2 separate regions of the Homo sapiens genome follow, and region 2 is linked to region 1. The links come from fine-mapping of genetic effects on gene expression. A gene starts in region 1. The other region holds a variant in brackets. All regions are shown on one strand. Distances are between the middles of the regions. Region 1 holds the start of ZSCAN18 (zinc finger and SCAN domain containing 18). Region 2 overlaps ZNF274 (zinc finger protein 274).

Region 1 (2,907 bases):
GAGCTCCACGGTGGGTGAGGGGTGGCTGAGCTGAGGGGTCCCAAGCCTGGTGGGTCTCCAGAGTCCTGCAGCAAATCCCCTTCATCCTGGGCTGAGCAGAGCTCAAGCCTGGTTTGGCCCTCCGTGGGCCCAGCCCTGGCCACCTGAGGAATATTCATCGCAGCTCTCCATCCCACCACACTCATCGGCAGGGTCTAGCAAACCACCCCACAGCCACAGGCCTGAGGATCAGCCAGGGAAGCTCAATGCATGGGATGTGGTTGTTGATGGGTCGCCGGATATTCCCAGGGTCTGCCCTGGCTTCATCCACAGATCACTTACTCATTATAAAAAGGGGTAAAAGTGCTTTTAAAAGAATGAAAAAACATGGAGTAAGGGTCGTCGTTCACATCTCAGCTGCCTTTTGTGGTCCCTGATCCACTCGCCAGGACAGACAGAACCAGAGAGATGTCCTGCGCAACTGGCCTAGGCTCCCCGAAAACCCGAGGCCAGAAATACCCAGGAAGTCACAGATTCAAGCATCATGCACAGAAAACAGCAACTCGATGCGACACGTGGTCCCGCTCTGACTCCAGGGCAGGAAACCATCCGCAGGACATGATGGGATGGGGGAAGTGAAATGGAACCGAGGAGGTGACATGGAACCAAGTGACTGTGCCACTCAGCCTCGCCCAGGAGTCAGCAAGGACACAGGCGAATATATGGGAAAGTGGAAGGAGGGCAGACAGAAATGGGGGAAGCGGGGAGGGAAGGTAGCAGGGAGAGAGAAGACAGGAGAGGAAGGAGCAAGAGCAGGGAAAGCCAGATAGTCTGGACGGGGGTAGAGGGGGATTGGGAAAAGGAAGGAGCCCAGGAGGGTGAGAGAAAGGAAATGGGGAAGGAGTGATGGGAGGGTGAGTCAGGCCCCCACCCCAACCCCCTGGGTCAGGACCGAAGCCAGTACACCCACTCTTGCCTCTTCCACGAGAGAGGTCTCCGGGGTGGGCGCAGACACCTAACTCAAACAGAACCCACCCCCAGGTGACTGGGGAGAGGCGAGATATTCCAAGGGTGGGGGCAGCAGAGACAATGCCCATTCTAGGCACCCCTTTGGTCCCCGCACCCTCCATCCCTTCCCTGCTCCAGCCCCTGGGGCCACAGCCTGCCCAGCGTCCCCCCACCACGGACACCCTCACATCCTCACACCCTCAGCCCCCACTTCCTCCCCTCCTCTTCCCTTCAGGAGCCTCCCCCTCCCTTCTCTTCCCCACTCAGGAGCCTCCCCCTCCCCCTTTTCGCCCCCCTCAGGAGCCTTCCCCTCCCCCCTTTCTCCCCCATCAGGAGCCTCCCCCTCCCTCATCTCTCCCCCATCAGGAGCCGCCCCTTCCTGTTCTCCCACCCACAGGGTGCCCTAAGCGCCTCCCCTCCACGAGCCTACACGGGGTGGGGGTTGCACTAGTTCCCTACCTGCCTGCAGGGCCCCTCACCGATCTGGATCTCAGCCACCTCCGGGGGGACCCGGCCCCTGCCCCGCACTCCACGCGAAGGGATGCCAGACCCTCGGCCTCCTGGACGCACAGCGGGGGCTCGCACCCCAACCCCGGGAACACCCTGGCCCCTTTCCCTAACGCTGCCCACTGAGGCGTCCTCACCGTCTACCCTGTTGGGGTCGCTCTCTGACCCCCGCGCTGCATCCCCGGGACCGACCCACCTGCTGCGCAGCTACCCCAGGCCGGTCCCAGCCGCCCGGAGCCCCAGTGCGCGATGGCGGCCGGCAAACTGCGCCTGCGCACTGGGCCTCACCGCGGACTACGACTCCCACAATGCCGCGAGGCTGTGCCGCGCACCGGGGCGAGCAAGGGAGCCGTGACAGGTGACAGTGCGCATGGCCAATCAGACGCGAGTGTGGCCTCCCGGCGTCCCGCCCACTCCGGCGCCTGCGTCATTTTGGGCACCATGGCAACGAAGTAAACAAGCGGGTAAATAATAGACCCCTGACAGCCAGAGACCCGGAGAAACAAAGACGGTGAGAAACGGAGAAACAAAGACAAAAAGACGCGCAGACCGGGAGGGAGAGAAGCATGAAGGCCCACAGACGCTCGGGGGCAGACCAAGACGCCCTGGGGTCCCCGAAACAGAGATGTACAGAGTCGGACACGGAAAGGGAGAGACCAGCTCACGGTTAAGAAAGGAGGGAGACCAGCCCAGGATCAAGAAAGGGAAAGACCAGCATGGGCTCAAGAAAAGAAAGAGACCAGCTCAGGCTCAGGAAAAGAGAGAGACCCAGAGAAAAGGAGCACTCGAGGCTGAGACAGATCTGGACAGAGATACAGAGACAGGGACCAGCAGACCCAGTACTGGGGAGACAAGAGGTGGAGACCCAGAGACACTGATGCGCTAAAATGGGTTCTACAGTTTCAAGGAGTGGATAGAACTCAAAGATTACCCACCCCAGGGATTCAGGAGCTGCTGAAATGAGGGAAATGTGAGTGGCAGCTGGGGTGAGGGCTTTGGCAAAGCCCCATATAAATGTAGCCCCCCTGGAAGGCAGGATAGGGCCAGGAGCTGCTTCCCATTTCAGTTTTCCAGATAGAGGCGCTTATGAGGATGCCATTTTGGTCGTTTTTGTGTGAACTGATTTTTAAAATGTATATCTGAACAGTTTATATATTTTAAATTTACATACACCACACATTTTGGTATTCAGTTTTATGAATTTTAACTCATATCCACCAACAAACTCGGGACAAAGAATAGCTCCACTGCCCAAAAATCCTCCTGCTGCCTCTTGGTAGTCACTCCCTCCCCACCCATAACCCCAGGAACAGCTAATCTAAGTAGTCCACTGCTACAATTTTGCCTTCACAGTGTCATATAAGTGGGATCATACAGTATGTGGCCTCTTCAGATTGGCTTTTTCACTGAACA
Region 2 (2,907 bases), 110 kb after region 1:
GCAGCCCTGCCCTCCAGCCACTGTGGCATCACTGGAGACAACGCATGGTGACCCGGGAGCTGAGAAAGCAGGAGGCAAGAGGGAAGGGACTAAGTGTTTACAGAGACTTGAGAGGTGGAACTACCACAGGCAGGCACATCTGTATCCAGGTCAGAACAAGAGAGCCCTCAACCTTCAGAAATGCATACTTAGGTATTTATCTTTGGTATCTGGGATTTGCTTCAGAATAACCCAGAGCTGGGGTGTGGGTGAAAAAGATTGGTCCTGATGCGCTGACCACTGGGGTAGTGGTATGTATGTGTCATTGGTCAGACCTGTTTGCACTGCAAATGGCTTATACTGGCTCAAGCGTAGAAGTCAATTTATTGGCTCTCATGTATTCTCTGGTAGGCTTCAGGCAAGGCTGCATCCAGGTGCTCCCAGGTGATGGGAAGAATCTCTGGCCAACCTGTTTCATGGCTCTGCTTTCTCCCCTTTCTTCTTCTTTTTTTTTGAGATGGAGTTTCACTCTTGTTGCCCAGGCTGGAGTGCAATGGCGCGATCTCAGCTCACTGCAACCTCTGCCTCCCAGGTTCAAGTGATTCTCCTGTCTCAGCCTCCTGAGTAGCTGGGATTACAGACAGCTGCCACTACACCCGGCTAATTTTTGGTATTTTTAATAGAGACGGGGTTTCACCATGTTGGCCAGGCTGGTCTCGAACTCCTGACCTCAGGTGATCCACCCGCCTTGGCCTCCCAATGTGCTGGGATTATAGGTGTGAGCCACTGCGCGTGGCCACTCCCCTTTCTTCTTAGGCAGATTCTGCCCCATGTAAGCAAAATGCCTCAGATCCTGGCAAAGCAGCGTTGGGGGTACCTCTTCTTCCCAAAGTCCTGGTCAGTTCCCCAGAAAGGACCAGTCATGGCTGTGCCAGGGTGACTGCCCTCCCCCAGGTCAGCCCTGTCGACAAAGGCAGGGGCTTGGTTGTCATTTCCACCAAGTGGGAAGACAGTATTAATAGATGGAGAACCCTCTGCAGTGGGAAGATTTCAGCAATGGGCAAGCTGGATAGAGCCGTGGTTAGGATGGAGTTGTTTGCTTGTTGCACTTGGAGCTCTTTATGAAGCAAGGGCTCTGCCTCCCAGCCTGAGACCCAGACCCTGGTTTGGACCCAGTAGAACTCTTGTGGGCCCTGGGTTGGTGTCTCTGAGCAAATCCCCAAAGCAGGAGAGTCCCTAGCACCGTGAGCTCTGTCAGAACCTCCCAGCTGGCCTTTCTTCTGCCCTCATTGACAACCCTCTGACCCTCTTGCTGAGCATAGACACATATGTGATGTTACAGGAGCCAGTGACCTTCCAGGATGTGGCTGTGGACTTCAGCCGGGAGGAGTGGGGGCTGCTGGGCCCGACACAGAGGACCGAGTACCGCGATGTGATGCTGGAGACCTTTGGGCACCTGGTCTCTGTGGGTAAGGCTGTGCCCCCTCTTCACCCACCTCAGGGCTGGTAGGCCACAGGAGCCCCAAGTCAGGGGTGTTCACCTTCTCTAGACTCCACACTGGGCATTCCCTCAAGGGGCCCTTGCTGCATCCAGGGCCTGTAAGTGGAACTGTAGACCTAGAGGGGTGAGGTCACTGGGTGGCCAGAAGCAGCCTTAGGTCCGGTGAAGGAGTGATTTGCTATCTATCTCCTGAGGGAGTATGAGAGAACAGGAACTCGAAGAGCTCGGAGGACAC[TC/T]CCTGCCCTTCCTGTCCCTTGTTCACCAAGGTCAGTGCTCCCCTCCCTGCCGCTTCATTGCTTTTCAGTCTCTCTCCAGGTTGCATGACTCTATTTGGGAGAAAAAAAAAATCCTGACTTTTGAACTTAATTATGCATTTCATGCTCTCAGACCCATCCCAGCACATCTCTCTATGGGATCCACATCTTTTGTTTATTTTTTTCAGGGTGGGAGACTACACTGGAAAATAAAGAGTTAGCTCCAAATTCTGACATTCCTGAGGAAGAACCAGCCCCCAGCCTGAAAGTACAAGAATCCTCAAGGGATTGTGCCTTGTCCTCTACATTAGAAGATACCTTGCAGGGTGGGGTCCAGGAAGTCCAAGACACAGTGTTGAAGCAGATGGAGTCTGCTCAGGAAAAAGACCTTCCTCAGAAGAAGCACTTTGACAACCGTGAGTCCCAGGCAAACAGTGGTGCTCTTGACACAAACCAAGTTTCGCTCCAGAAAATTGACAACCCTGAGTCCCAGGCAAACAGTGGCGCTCTTGACACAAACCAAGTTTTGCTCCACAAAATTCCTCCTAGAAAACGATTGCGCAAACGTGACTCACAAGTTAAAAGTATGAAACATAATTCACGTGTAAAAATTCATCAGAAGAGCTGTGAAAGGCAAAAGGCCAAGGAAGGCAATGGTTGTAGGAAAACCTTCAGTCGGAGTACTAAACAGATTACGTTTATAAGAATTCACAAGGGGAGCCAAGTTTGCCGATGCAGTGAATGTGGTAAAATATTCCGGAACCCAAGATACTTTTCTGTGCATAAGAAAATCCATACCGGAGAGAGGCCCTATGTGTGTCAAGACTGTGGGAAAGGATTTGTTCAGAGCTCTTCCCTCACACAGCATCAGAGAGTTCATTCTGGAGAGAGACCATTTGAATGTCAGGAGTGTGGGAGGACCTTCAATGATCGCTCAGCCATCTCCCAGCACCTGAGGACTCACACTGGCGCTAAGCCCTACAAGTGTCAGGACTGTGGAAAAGCCTTCCGCCAGAGCTCCCACCTCATCAGACATCAGAGGACTCACACCGGGGAGCGCCCATATGCATGCAACAAATGTGGAAAGGCCTTCACCCAGAGCTCACACCTTATTGGGCACCAGAGAACCCACAATAGGACAAAGCGAAAGAAGAAACAGCCTACCTCATAGCT

Evidence for each region.
Region 2: its variant is fine-mapped to the expression of ZSCAN18 in whole blood (INTERVAL, PIP 0.99).

The regions. Positions count from the first base shown.
Region 1 is chr19:58,096,484-58,099,390 of GRCh38, forward strand. It overlaps ZSCAN18 (zinc finger and SCAN domain containing 18), which reads right to left and starts at 1,748. Exons shown (of 7, transcript NM_001145543.2): 1 at 1,691-1,748.
Region 2 is chr19:58,210,239-58,213,145 of GRCh38, forward strand. ZNF274 (zinc finger protein 274) reads left to right here. Exons shown (of 8, transcript NM_133502.3): 7 at 1,322-1,448; 8 at 1,923-2,907. The coding sequence ends at 2,905. Among named protein-coding and RNA genes, the nearest start is that of ZNF544, 17 kb to the right of the region's middle. The variant TC/T (reference allele first, on the strand shown) is at 1,716.